Regions from separate parts of the Homo sapiens genome. Here region 1 is reported to be linked to region 2. The links are microRNA targets in miRTarBase. Many come from high-throughput screens and were not tested one by one. Region 2 holds a microRNA gene; the other region holds the end of a gene's coding sequence.

The links. Region 2 holds the annotated microRNA hsa-miR-3116 (UGCCUGGAACAUAGUAGGGACU, at 3,200-3,221, shown strand). A microRNA usually pairs through its seed, bases 2 to 8, with sites in the 3' UTR of a target mRNA and lowers its output. Matches are read on the target gene's strand: a 7mer-m8 pairs with bases 2 to 8, a 7mer-A1 pairs with bases 2 to 7 and ends in A, and an 8mer does both.
Region 1: miRTarBase lists OLR1 as a target of hsa-miR-3116. The part of its 3' UTR that is shown has no 7-base or 8-base seed match.

The regions. Positions count from the first base shown.
Region 1 is chr12:10,153,216-10,160,339 of GRCh38, forward strand. It overlaps OLR1 (oxidized low density lipoprotein receptor 1), which reads right to left. Exons shown (of 6, transcript NM_002543.4): 6 at 5,086-6,806. The coding sequence ends at 6,665. Among named protein-coding and RNA genes, the nearest start is that of OLR1, 15 kb to the right of the region's middle. RefSeq lists enhancers at 71-574, 429-518, 529-718.
Region 2 is chr1:62,075,631-62,082,754 of GRCh38, forward strand. It overlaps MIR3116-1 (microRNA 3116-1), which reads left to right and starts at 3,156; the gene lies at 3,156-3,229. It overlaps PATJ (PATJ crumbs cell polarity complex component), which reads left to right. Exons shown (of 44, transcript NM_001350145.3): 32 at 3,820-3,937. MIR3116-2 (microRNA 3116-2) reads right to left here and starts at 3,226; the gene lies at 3,159-3,226.

The DNA.
Region 1 (7,124 bases), not on the chromosome of region 2:
AGGGCTGGTATTCCTTTAACTGTGGTGTAAGTTGAATATAGTCATTTGCTTCATTTATGAGTGCTGTCAGAGGGCCAAGGCTCTGTACAAGATCTTTGTGGCTGGATTCTTGCCCTGAGTTTCACAGACCAATATTTAATATATTGGCAGAATATTTTTGGTGTAATTTGGGCTATCATCCAGCAGATGGCGCATAAGAGTAACGGCCAGCGCTGCGGGTTTTTACGTTTCAGCGAGCTCGCAACAACGTCCTGTGGTGTGGCCCAGCGCGGGGAGCTGACCCCACCAGCTCCGCTCTCAAGCCTTCGGAGAGTCCTCTCCAGTCACTATCGTCATTCCCGCATTTCCTTTGCTAGGCTGTCCGGGCTGGGCAGCTCCCTCAGGCGGACACCCATGGCTGGCAGACCTTCCGCGCCTGCCCCTAATCTGGGCATATCACTCCCTCGGTTTTCTGAGACTCGGGACTCCTTGCCCGCTGGAGCGCAGGCCATGAATCTGGGTCCCGCACTGCGGCGCTGCACGCCGCAGCCCAGGGCTTTGGCCCCAGCCAGCACATCCGCCATCCTGCACCCCAGGTTCCGGCACGGGCTGCGACGGGGCCTCGGAACTGCTCCCAAGCGGCTGGGAAAGAACTCAGTCAGGCATGTCGGCCTGCAAAGCACCCAGGATGGGCAGTGGAGTCTGCACCGTTGACAGGCTCCTAGAGCGGCCAGGCAGAGGACTTGAGAGGGGCTGGAGGGCAGGAGGTCCTGCGGAACAGAAGTGCCCCACTCCGAAGGGAAAGTCGACCCTGCTGTTCTCTTTGCGCGGCAGTCAGTGGGGTTAGAGTTATTCGGAAGAGGACGGAGAGCCTTGGGGGATGGGTGCGCATGGCCATGTTCCACTGGAACTGCCCCCAACGCAAAACAAACAAACAAACAACAACAACAACAAAAACCGGGCTCTATGCAGGCTGGAGTTCTGCCTCTGCCTGCTTGTAGGGCATATCCCCATGCCAGTTCGAATGTTTATGGGGAGTGTAGGATCTCTTGTGGCTGGAATCCTAGAGGTCCACAGCAAGAGTGGGCTGCCTTGCCAAGGGTTGTTCAGGGCCAGGAACTGGCACTGGTGTTCCAGAACCTGAAAGGGTTCCCGGTCTCCCTTTCTGTCAGCGGGAGTGGTGCTTCCTGTCTGCGTCTATTTGGCCATCTTGTCTCTGTTGACCAAATAGCTTTTTTGAGAAGAAAAATGAAATTGATAAATCTCTAGCTAAGCCGATTAGTTTTAAAAAAAAAAGATACAATTAACACTGTCAGGAAGGAAGTGGCAATGCTAAAGATTCTACAGATATTCAAATAATTTTTAAAAATGGTATGCCAATAAATTAAACAACTTAGATGAAGCTCATAAATTCCTTGAAAGTAACCACCAAAGCTCATTGAAGAAGGAATCCTTTGAACAGCTCAACATCTAAAAAAAACTGAATCTGGCCGGGTGCGGTGGCTCACGCCTGTAATCCCAGCACTTTGGGAGGCTGAGGCGGGCGGATCACAAGGTCAGGAGTTCGAGACCAGCCTGGCCAGCATGGTGAAACCCCGCCCCTACTAAAATACAAAAATTAGAGGGACATGGTGGCTCGCGCCTGTAATCCCAGCTACTTGGGGGCTGAGGCAGGAAAATCGCTTGAACCCGGGAGGCGGAGGTCGCAGTGAGCCGAGATGGTGCCACTGCACTGCAGCCTGGGCGACAAAGCAAGTCTCCGTCTCAAAAAAAAGAAAAAAAAGAAACTGAATCTGTAGTTGAAAACCTTACTACAAAGAAAACCCTATGCCCAGATGACTTCAAGGGTAAATTGTATCAAACATTTAATGAAGAAATAGTACTAATTCTAAACCAAATCTTCCAGAAAAATTGACATTGAGAAATATTTATCTGATATTCAAATAAGGCAAAGTCATAAAGAGAAAAGAAAACTATGTTTAAAAATACTGGCCATGGCCAAGCACGGTGGCTCACACCTGTAATCCCAGCACTTTGGGGGCCTAGGCGGGCAGATCACCTGAGGTCAGGAGTTCGAGACCACCCTGGCCAACATGGTGGAACCCTATCTCTACTAAAAATGCAAAAATTTGCTGAGTATGGTGGGGGGTGCCTGTAATCCCAGCTACTCAGGAGGCCAAGGCAGGAGAATCGCTTGAACCCGGGAGACAGAGGTTGCAGTGAGCCAAGATCGCGCCACTGCACTCCAGCCTGGGCGACAGAGCAAAACTCCACCTCAAAAAAAAAAAAAAAAGTACTGGCCAGGCATGGTGGGTCACACCTGTAATCCCAACACTTTGAGAGGCCGAGGCAGGAGGATCACTTGAACCTGGGACTTCAAGGCCAGCCAGGGCAACATAAGAAGAGCCTGTCTCTTTCTCTCAAATTAAAATAATTAGCTGGGGATGATGGTGCATGCCTGTGGTCACCGTTGTCCCAGCTACTTTGGAGGCTGAGGCAGGAGGATCACTTCAGCCTGGGAGGTCAAAGCTTCAGTGACCTGTGGTCGTGCCACTGCAGTCCAGCCTGGGCAACAGAGTAAGACTCTACCTCTAAAAAACCAGAACAAAATGAACAGAAACAAAAAACCCATAAATATAGTTGCAAACATTCTAAGCCAAATTTTAACAGAAATAACCCATAATATAATACATATAACAGATCTAATCCATTAATATAATGCAATCCTAAATTGTTTTAACCTTATATAATTAATGAGTGTAATTCATGTTAAAAGACTAGAAATTTTTAACCTAAAAAAAAACAAAGAAAATACTAGATATTTTTAAAATAAAAATGTATATATAATCATCTCAATAGATGTAGAAAAATATTAGACAAAATTAACACCTATTCCTGATCAGTCCTCTAAGAATGCAAGGAACAAAAGGGAACTTCCTAAAACTGATTAAGGACGTCTATGAAACATCTACAGTTTACACCATACTTAGTGGTGCAACACTGAATGATCTCTTCTCAAGATCAATTTCAAAATAAGGATATTGTTCTCACTACTTTTATTTCTCATTGAACGGGAGGTTCAGGCAAGGAAAAGAATAAAAGCATTGGAAAGGAAAAGATAGAAGTGCTTCCGCTGGCACACAGAATGATTATTTGTGTAGAAAATCTGATGACATCTACAAAAAAAGTTACTAGAAGAAACAAATAAGTTTATCAAGGTTTCAGAATATAAGGTGAATATTTAAAAGTCTATTATATTTCTCCATACTAGCAATAAACAGTTGGAAATTAAAATTATCAATGATAATTCCCATGTACAGTAGCGTCGAAACTATGAAGTATATATGGTAAGCTAACAAAATATGTAAAAATATCTGTAAGAGAAAACTGCAAAACATTGCTCAGAGAAATTTTAAAATACCTAAATAAATGCAGAGACATACTTTATTCAAGAGTCAGAAAAATCAATATTTTTAAGGTTTCAATTCTGCCCAAATCGATTTGTAGATTCAATGTAATCACAATCAGAATTCCAAAAGAGTTTTTGTAGAAATTAGTGAGCCAATTCAAAAATCAATATGGAAAATATAGTGACATAGCTCAGCCAATGTAACTTTGCAAAAGAAAAATAAATTTGAAGGACTGTCACTGCATGATTTTAAGATTTATTATAAAACTACAGTATTCAAAATAATGTGGTGGTGGTGTATAAATACGCAAATACAAAAATACAACAATCAGTGGAATAAAATAGAGAGTTTAGAAATAATCCCATGAATATACAGACAACTGATTGGTGATAAAGGTGCAAAAGCAATTTAGTAAAGAAAAATAGTCTTTTCGACAAATTTACATTTGTCGAATTAATCCCAAATAAATCATAGACCTCAGTATAAAACCTGAAGCTATAAAATGTCTAGAAAAAAATAAAGGAGAAAATTTTTGTGACCTTGAGTTAGTCAATGAGTTCTTACAAACCACAGCAGAATAATAAAAATGGACTTCATTAAAATAAAAAACTTCTGCTTTATGAGTATATTGTTCAAAGAATGAAAAGACAGGCTGGGCGGTGGCTCACACCTGTAATCCTAGTACTTCGGGAGGCCAAGGCAGGCAGATCACTTGAGGTCAGGAGTTCAAAACCAGCCTGGCCAACATGGTGAAACCCCATCTCTACTAAAAATACAAAAACTTAGCCAGGCATGGTGGTGGGCACCTGTAATCCCAGCTACTTGGGAGGCTGAGGCAGGAGAATCACTTGAACCTGGGAGGCGGAAGTTGCAGTAAGCTGGGATTGCACTACTCCAGCCTGGGCAACAGAGTGAGACTCCCTCTCAAAAAAAAAAAAAAAAAGACAAGACAAGAAAAACATTTCAAGATGCATATCTGATAAAAGGTTTTTATCCCAAATATATAAAGTTCTCAAACTCAACAGTAAGAAAAATAAACCAAGTAAAAATTCTCAAAAGATTTATACAGTTACTTTATCAAAGTTACCTAATACAGATGGTAAATAAGCTTATAAAAATTTGCCTGGGGCGGTGGCTCACGCCTGTAATCCCAGCACTTTCAGAAGCTGAGGTGGGTGGATCACCTGAGGTCAGGAGTCTGAGAACAGTCTGGCCGACATGGTGAAACCCCGTCTCTGCTAAAAATACAAAAATTAGCTGGAAGTGGTAGCGGGCGCCGGTAATCCCAGCTACTTGGGAGGCTGAGGCAGGAGAATTGCTTGAACCCAGGAGGCGGAGGTTGCAGTGAGCTGAGATTGTGCCACTGAACTCCAGCCTGAGCAACAAGAGCGAAACTCTGTCTCAAAAACAAACCAACAAACAGAAATTTGTAGGATACACAGATTAAAACTATGAGGATATACCATTCGATATCTACTAGAATCATTAAAACTATAAGACGAACCATATGAAATTCTGGCATGGATGAGATGGAACTGGAGCACTCATACACTGCTGGTAGGAATGAAAAATGGTACAACTTTGGAAAAGAGTTTGTCAGTTTCCTAAATAGTTAATCATACACCTACTGTGTGATCCAGACGTTATACTCCTAAGTATTTAACCAAGAGAAAAGAAATCCTATGTTCATACAGACTTGTACACAAATGTTCACAGCAGCTTTATTTGTAATATCCCAAAACTAAAACAACCCAAATGTCATCAACAAGTAAATGGGTAAATGAATTGTGGTATATCCATACAAGGGAATATTCAACATTTAAAAGAATGAATTCATACGAGCATCAAGATGGAGACATATGAATCTCAAAATAATTATGCAAAGTGAAAGAAGCCAGACAAAAAAAAAAGACATACTATATGATTCCATTCACATAAAACTACAAAATGCAAAATGAAAGCCGATTGGTGGTTTTCTGGGGAGGAGTCATCAGGAGGAGCATTGTGACACTTTGAGGGATGATGGATATGTTCACTCTCTTAATTGTAGTATGCATGTTCTCCACAAGGTGTGAAAACTTATCAAATAGTACACTTTAAATATGTTCAGTTTATTTTATGTTAATTATATCTCAATAAAGCTTTTAACAAAAGCAAACATCTCTTGCCTACATAAGGATGACACAGCTCTTAAAAAAAAAAAAAGATTCCTGCTAGATTGTGTGCAGCAAAATAAAAAGGCTTCCTTTAAAGTAGAATAGCCTGTGAAGAGTGGGTGGAAAGGAAATAGAAGCCTAAAAATAGAAGATATATTTCTAATTCCATCTGTTTCTATTCAGCGATATTTGCATACCTGGCTTAGTTTGTTCTAGATTGAGTGTCTTCATTTTTTTTGTCTTGTATGTTTCGGAATTATAGCATAGCAAAACAGAGTTGAGAAGAGTTCATCTACAAAAGGTATGTTCTTTAGGGAAAGAAATTCTATTCTTACCTCTGGGCCACACATCCCATGATTCTAACAAGAACTGTTGTGAAGGGTTAAATCTATTAATCTGTCCTCTGGTAGAAAAAAAAATGAAGAAATAATAACTGATTCAGGAAGTGGTAACAGGTTGTGGATTAGCTTACAGAAAAGACCACTCACTTACTAATTACTTTCTTGGGCTCCCCACTTGTCCCAAAATGTGTGTGTGTGTGTGTGTGTGTGTCTGTCTGTCTGTCTGTCCGTAAGTGGTAGAGTCTGGAGATGGACCACAGTTTAAAAACCAAGGATTGATACCTTTTTTAAAGTTAAGAACATGAGTTTCTTGATTTCGGAATGGCCTCTGTCCTTCTTTGTTTCTTCACGTGCACTTTTTCCCAGACATATTTCCCCTTTTTGCTCTCTGCCTGCACTTGAGCAAGTTCTCCATGTTCTGTCTTTCATGCAATTTTAGGAGTGTGAGGGGAAGGTGATAATGAGGTAAAGAAGACTGAGTTCAGAGGGTTTTCAAGCTTGAAGAGGAGTCAAATTTTAAAATAAAAAGGGGAAAATGGACTTCAGGCTGGCAGGGAAGCTTGGGACAAGCTAGGTGAAATAATACAGGTAGCTAGAATCAAAAATGTTGACATAAAGGTGCCAGGCTCCTGGAACCCCAGTTTCTGCAAAGGAGTTCTGCAGCCAGCTAAATGACAGTTTTCTGGGCTCTCATGTTTGGCACCCAAGTGACAAAGAATAGCTTAAATTCCAGAATAAAACTCAAAGACTTTTTTCTTTTCTTCCAGAGCCTTCAAATTCACTGTGCTCTTAGGTTTGCCTTCTTCTGACATATACTGAAGGCAGCTAAAATGCAGTTTTCCGCATAAACAGCTCCTCGTTGTATATATGCACAGGTACCTGAAGGGTATGTCTGGGAGACAGCGCCTCGGACTCTAAATCTGCAGGTAGGAAAAAACAAAACAAACCAACAAAAAAACTTAGGTTTACTGCCACCTTGTTTCAGAAACTTAGCTTTTGAAACTTTTTGTCTTAAAGCCTCCAATCAGTAATAAATGTGGGAAGGAAAACTCAAGAAAATGTCTGAATGGTTAATGAGTAAATCTTTTTGTGAAAGAGGTAAGGAAGGAGACTTTGAGAAATTCCCCCAAGCTTCTCTCTGGCAAGAAGAGGACATTGGTGGGATGCAGGCAGTGACCTCACTAGCAGGTTCAGCAAAGAATAGGAAACTGACGAGAGAGGCATCAAAAAGAATGGGA
Region 2 (7,124 bases):
GACAAGGGCCGGGCGCAGTGGCTCACGCCTGTAATCCCAGCACTTTGGGAGGCCGAGATGGGTGGATCACAAGGTCAGGAGATCTAGACCATTCTCACTAACACGGTGAAACCCCGTCTCTACTAAAAATACAAAAAATTAGCCAGGCGTGGTGGTGGGTGCCTGTAGTCCCAGCTACTCGGGAGGCTGAGGCAGGAGAATGATGTGAACCCGAGAGGCAGAGCTTGCAGTGACCAGAGATCGCGCCACTGCACTCCAGCCTGGGCAACAGAGCGAGACTCCGTCTCAAAAAAAAAAAAAAAGAAAAGAAAAACACTGACAAGTACAATTTTGATACAACTACAAGGGTGTTTTACAACTAAACCAGTGGTTCTTAACCCTGTTTTATAATAGGAACACCTAGAGAGCTTTAAAAAAAATCACGAATGCTAGGACCCCCATCCCAGACCAAATAAACTGGCATCTAGGGATGTGGATCCCAGGCAAGTTTTGTTTTGTTTTGTTTTGTTTTTGAGACATCGTTTAAAGTTAAACCATGGATTCTTAAGCCAGGGCTTCTTAAAAGAAGATTAAGTCTTAATCAATAAGTCTCAATTAAAAACAAAAACAAAAAACAAAAAAAACCTGCCTGGGACCCACACCCCTAGATGCTAATTTATTTTGCCTGCGATGGGGATCCTAGCATCTGTAATTTTTAAAAGCTCCGTAGGTGTTCCTATTATGAAACAGGGTTGAAAACCACAGGTTTAGTTAGGTTGGATGACCTATAAAGTCCATCTCAGTTCTTATAATACAGTAACATACAACAGCAAATCCATTCTTTCTGATCTTTCTTACACAGTAGTTTGGTTTTGTGCCAATGAATGAGTCATGGGAACACTCCTTCATCCATCACCACACATACCGACAACTGGAGGCCAGCCTCTATGTATATATGTTTGGACATTTCACTTGGATTCTATGGACTGCTTCCTTATTGTTAAATTGAATTCAATTCCACCAGTATCTATCAGGGACCTATTATGCACCAGATGCTACATGAAACTGGGATATAAAGAAAAGCAACAATCATCTCATGCTATAGAAAAGTCGTAATTTAGTAATCTAGATTGCTCTCTTTAGTGCTTTCTTATTTTAAAAGTCGCGTGATTTTTCATAAAAGAACTCTGCGGCTTGCACCCAGCTTTGTTGGGAATCCATGTTCTTTCTTGAGGTGATATAAAATGTAAGTTGGAGGTAAGTACTGTGTGAGTTAAGACACAGGCTCAATTGCTGCAAGAAGTTCTCTTTAGCATAAGAGTCTGTGTGTGGCTGTGTGTGGTCAGTTGGGGAATGATATGGTGTCTCCAAAGTGTCAGAGACCCAAGCACCTCTTATCTGATTACTATACCATTCTTATTTGATTACTCTACCACCCTCAAATGGTGGCATCCATTCTTTAGTTTAAGAGGGCTGCTTCAGTTATTACCAACACATCTGTATTCCAAGCAGTGAGAAGGGAAAGACAGGATCTTTCTCCTTAGGAGAATGACCTAAAAATTGTACATTCACTTCTGTTTACATCCCATTGACCAGGACTTAGCCTGTTGGCACACCTACCTTCAATGAGGCTAGTAAATGTGGTCCTTAGAATAATTGGATATCTAAGTCCTCTCAATGTTGTTTTCTTATAGTAACCCCTTATTTGTCCTTTTCTACTTTCTTCCTTTAAAAATCACTGATAAATATGTAATTGAAAAAGTCTCTTTTTAGTCAATATTAAATGATGCTGATAGTGGCGGGGCACAGTGGCTCATGCCTGTAATCCCAGCACTCTGAGATGCTGAGGTGGGTGGATTGCTTGAGTCCAGGAGTTCGAGACCAGCCTGGGCAACATAGCAAAACTCCATCTTTACTAAAAATACAAAAAATTAGCCAGGCGTGGTGGTGTGCGCCTGTAATCCCAGGTATTCAGGAGGCTGAGGTGGGAGAATCACCTGAGCCCAGGACATCAAGGCTTCAGTGAGCCGAGATCACACAACTATTACAGCCTAGGTGACAGAGTGAGACCCTGTCCAAAAAAAAAAAAAAAAGAAGATGGTGATAGAAAAACTGCAGGAAAAAACAAAAAAACTCCATAGAATCATTGCCTATCAGCTGTTTGATAAACACTTTAAGCTTGTAGCATTCTTCAACTATTGACTTCCGGTTCTACCTCTTTCTCTAATTAGCAGTGTGATTTCAAATATGTCACTTGACATTTATGCTTGGTTTTCTGCAAAAAGAAAAAAAGTAATATTTAACTGTCGGGGTTGTTCATGTGATTGAATGAATTTATGGATGTAAAAGTGTTTTGAAAACTAGAAAGCACAGTGCATATGCACAATGGATGGTATTGTTTTGTTGTTACTGCACACTGCACAATGCCCTGTATTGAGGCACAGCTTTCCACTGACAGAATCTTGAGGTGTTACAGTTCTGGAGCAGTTACCTTGGTCCTATTTCTAGACTCCAGGGGCAACCTGGTGCTTCACTACCAGACTCTTCCAGCTGGGGATGGGTTCCCTGGCCAACTGCAGATCCAGAAGGCAGGTCAGGTTACTACCTATATTTCTTAACTGCCTGTTAAATAAGCAAGGAGTCCTTTTGGTTTTTCTTAGTGTATGTATGTATGTATGTATTTATTTTTGGAGACGGAGTTTCATTCTTGTTGCCCAGGCTGGAGTGCAATGGCACGGTCTCAGCTCACTGCAACCTCTGCCTCCTGGGTTCAAGCAATTCTCCTGCCTCAGCCTCCCAAGTAGCTGGGATTACAGGCATGCATCACCACGCCTGGCTAATTTTTGTATTTTTTTCAGTAGAGATGGGGTTTCACCATGTTAGCCAGGCTGGTCTCGAACTCCTGATGTCAGGTGATCTGCCCATCTCAGCCTCCCAAAGTGCTGGGTTTACAGGCGTGAGCCACCATGCCTGGCCCCTTAGTTTTTTAATATTAATATTCATTGGAGGTACTGTCAGCAAAAATCCAGAATTACAAGTTAATTTTTCCCAAACTCACACAGTAGAGGTCCCTGTACCTTCACTGAATTGCAAGTTCACTTTCTACCCTGAGTTACTCATGTCTTCAGTTTTGCTTTTCTTTGTTCTTTCTTTCTTGTTCATTCATTCATCAAGCACTTTATTGAGTCCCTACTATGTTCCAGGCACTGGGTATCGTAGGTGCCTGGAACATAGTAGGGACTCAATAAAGGAGCTATGCTTCCTTTATGTGAATTAAATGTCACTGATGTAGCTGGCATTTAGTAGGCTTTCAGTAGGTGTTGGTTTTCTTTGTCTGCCCCTCATTTTGCTTAATTAACCTACCAAATGCATCTTTGACTCTAGTGTGTCCAGAAGAAATGGACAGTGTTGATGCTCTAAACATCCCCAGCGTAGATTGTTTTTCAATGTGCACAACACAGATAAGTCACTTCAAAGTCCATAGATAAAGGGGCTTCTTGCTGATTTCATCAGAATGAGTAGAAATTGCAAGATAATTTTTGTTTTGCCTCCCACCCCCAGCTTCATGTACAGATCACACTGACAGAGTATCTTCAGCTTTTATCTTTCCTCCCTTCCTTGATCTGCCCTTCATCAAAGCATTTTAGTTGTAAAGTTAAATAGGGAAGAATGAGGAACGAGGCATAAATCATCCTAACTTCTTGCCACCCTCCAACCTTATATTCTCAAAAGACATCATTGGACTGCACCATTGTTTTGGTAACAATACACCAGTTTTAAAGTATTTTCTTGTTACCTTTCTCCTTTTTGATATTCATCTAATTTTCCTTTCTTTTGTAGGCTGTCAGCCAGATGAAACAGCAAAAATATCCAACAAAAGTCTCCTTCAGTTCACAAGAGATACCATTAGCACCAGCTTCATCATACCATTCAACAGATGCAGACTTCACAGGCTATGGTATGATTCTTTCTCTCAGCAGATCTGGCTCATTAAGCCTTAGAGAAGGCAAGGGATCATAATGTCCTAAAACGAGAACTGGACCAGGAGGCAGAAGTCTGACTCTGGATACTTCCTCCGCTTCCTTAGCTTTGGGGCTTGGATAGGTCACTTCATTTCCTACATCATTTTTCCTCCTCTCTGCCATCGCCATTGCCTGTTGCTTTTTGAATATAAGAGCACTAGAACAGAACAGGACCTCAGTAGGTCAGGAGTTCAAGACCAGCCTGGCCAACATGGTGAAACCCTGTCTCTACTAAAAATACGAAAAATTAGCCAGGCATGGTGGCGCATGCCTGTAATCCCAGCTACTCGGGAGGCTGAGGCAGGAGAATCGCCTGAACCCAGGAGGCAGAAGTTGCAGTAAGCTGAGATTGCACCACTGCACTCCAGCCTGGGTGACAGAGTGAGACTCTGTCTCAAAAAAAAAAAAAAGGAAAAGAAAAGGACCTCAGTAAATGTTATTTGAATCTGAGGCTTCTGTATTATTCTTCTCTAATCTCTACAAAAGATTATATTTAGGTCTTGAGTAATATCTCTTTAAAAATCCTATCAAACCCAATTTTTAGCCCTGCAAATGTTGCTTTAAGCTGTTTGAAGAATGTTGATTTTCAATGCTTAAAGAAATTGGCATGCACATTCTGTCTTTAAATTCCTGGCTTGAATTATGCTGACTGGGGGTTGAAAATAGAACTTTATAAAGAATAATAGGTATTTCTACTTGCTTTTTTTTCTTTTTTTTTGAGACAGAGTCTCATTCTGTCACCCAGGCTGGAGGGCAGGGGGCTGATCTCAGCTCACTGCAACCTCTGCCTCCTGGGTTCAAGTGATTCTCCTGCCTCGGCCTCCTGAGTAGCTGGGATTACAGGTGCTCACCACCATGCCCGGCTAATTTTTACATTTTTAGTAGAGATGGGGTTTCACCATGTTGGCCAGGCTGGTCTCAAACTCTTGACCTCAAGTGATCTGCCTGCCTCGGCCTCCAAAAGTGCTGGGATTACAGACGTGAGCCACTGTGCCCAGCCCTACTTTGCTTTTGTGCAGTATACATCAGTAAAAAATAAAACTCTTTAAAAGACAGTACTCACCAATGGCAAAGCATAACCCTGCATTAATTTAGCAGTTCTGAAATCTTTGTGGTATTTGCCTTTTATATATTTTTTCATAAATATTAACTTCATAAAGTTCATCAAGCAGGTACTATTTTAAAGCATTGTAGATGTACTAAAACATTTGATGCATGTGGTCAGAAAACTATGGCGCATGGGTCAAATCTGGCCTACCAGCTAGTTGTGTATGGTCTACAAGCTAAAAAAGGTGTTCACTTTTTAAAGGTTGAAAAAACACCTAAGAAAATTTTATTAAAATATTCTATGAAATTCATATTTCAGTGTCCACAAATACAGGTTTATAGACACTCATTTGTTTCTGTATTGTCAGTGGCTTTTTTCACACTATAATGATGGAGTTAAGTAGTCACAACAGAGACAGTCTGGCCTGTAATGCCCTATTAAAATATGTATACTTGGCACTTTACCAACAATGCATGCTGACTATGGAGGTAGACAAGTTGAGTTTTGGTAATATATATCACATATTTATACTTAGATGACAGAAATTCAGCATCCTTCCTGGTTTTCATTCTCATGGTTAAATAATAAATAAACAAATAAATAAATAAATGAAGTTCATCATCCTACAGTTGAATCTATAGAAATTTTATTCATTTACTCATCTACTTACCAAGCATTTATTGAGGACTTGGTATGAGCTGGGTTTGGGGCTGGATTCCATGAGAGAAGTAAATAAAAAGATTGACTCAGGACTGGCTAGGGTGAGGCAAACGTGGAGGAGGGAAAAGAAATGCCATCTCCAGGATGTCTCACCAGGTTTTTTTCTCTCTTCTCACTCAGGAGACTACGCTAGTCATTTACAAAGGCAGTATAAACTTTTTATTTACTTATCTATTTATTTATTTGAGATGGAGTTTTGCTCTTGTTGCCCAGGCTGGAGTGCAATGGTGTGATCTCGGCTCACTGCAACCTCTGCCTCCTGGGTTCAAGTGATTCTCCTGCCTTAGCCTTCCTAGTAGTTGGGATTACAGGCATGTGCCACCATGCCTGGCTAATTTTGTATTTTTAGTAGAGACAGGGTTTCACCATGTTGGTCAGGCTGGTATCAAACTCCTGAACTCAGGTGATCCGCCCACCTCAGCCTCCCAAAGTGCTGAGGTTACAGGCGTGAGCCACCGCACCCGACCTAAAAGCAATAGAAACTTTTTAAAGCACCCATGAAAGTGTGCCACTATCGTACGTCATTTTTATTGTAAATTAATGGGAAATGTGGTATAAAATACATATGCTGCAAAAAGATTTAAAGACAAATTTGGTTTACAATTTAATATTCTGCCTTGCCTGTATCTTACCTAGAGCCTTTCTTTTTGTCTTATTGGCAAGATTTTTCTATAAAGAAGTCGATAGTAAATATTTTAGGCTGTGGTCCACACAGCCTCTGTTGTAGTTTCTCACCCCTGCCATTGTAGTGTGCTAGCCACCATAGGCTGGCCATAGGCTACTTCTAAATATGGCACTTTTTATGGTTGTATCACTGAATTTCTTGCTGTTAACCAGGAGGCCTTTAGATTAATAAATTCCATATGGATGGGAACAAGATATGTGAATACCCACAATGTGCCAGACTCTGGGCCGGGCACCTCACACACACTGTTCATTTAGTTTCTCTAACAGCCTCTTTAATAGTGGTTACATGCATTTTTCTGATGAGAAGTGAGCTCCACTTTCACCCTCCTGTTAAATTCCTGCTTAGGAACTCAACTGTGGCTCTGTGCCACTCCAAAACCTGTGCCTTTTCATCTCAAAGACCATGATTATCACTTAGTTAGAGCAGAACCCCCACAGGCTTACCTAGAGCCTGTTTCTTTTTGTTTTATACCAGAGATTGACAAGCTTTTTCTATAAAGAAGTAGATTGTAAATATTTTAGGCTTATGGGCCACACAACCGCTATTGCAGTTACTCACCCCTGCCATTGTAGTATGCTAGCAGCCATAGGCTAGGCATAAATGAATTAGTGGGTTTGTGTTCCAATACGACTTTATTTATAGACACTGAGATTTAGACTCATATCAT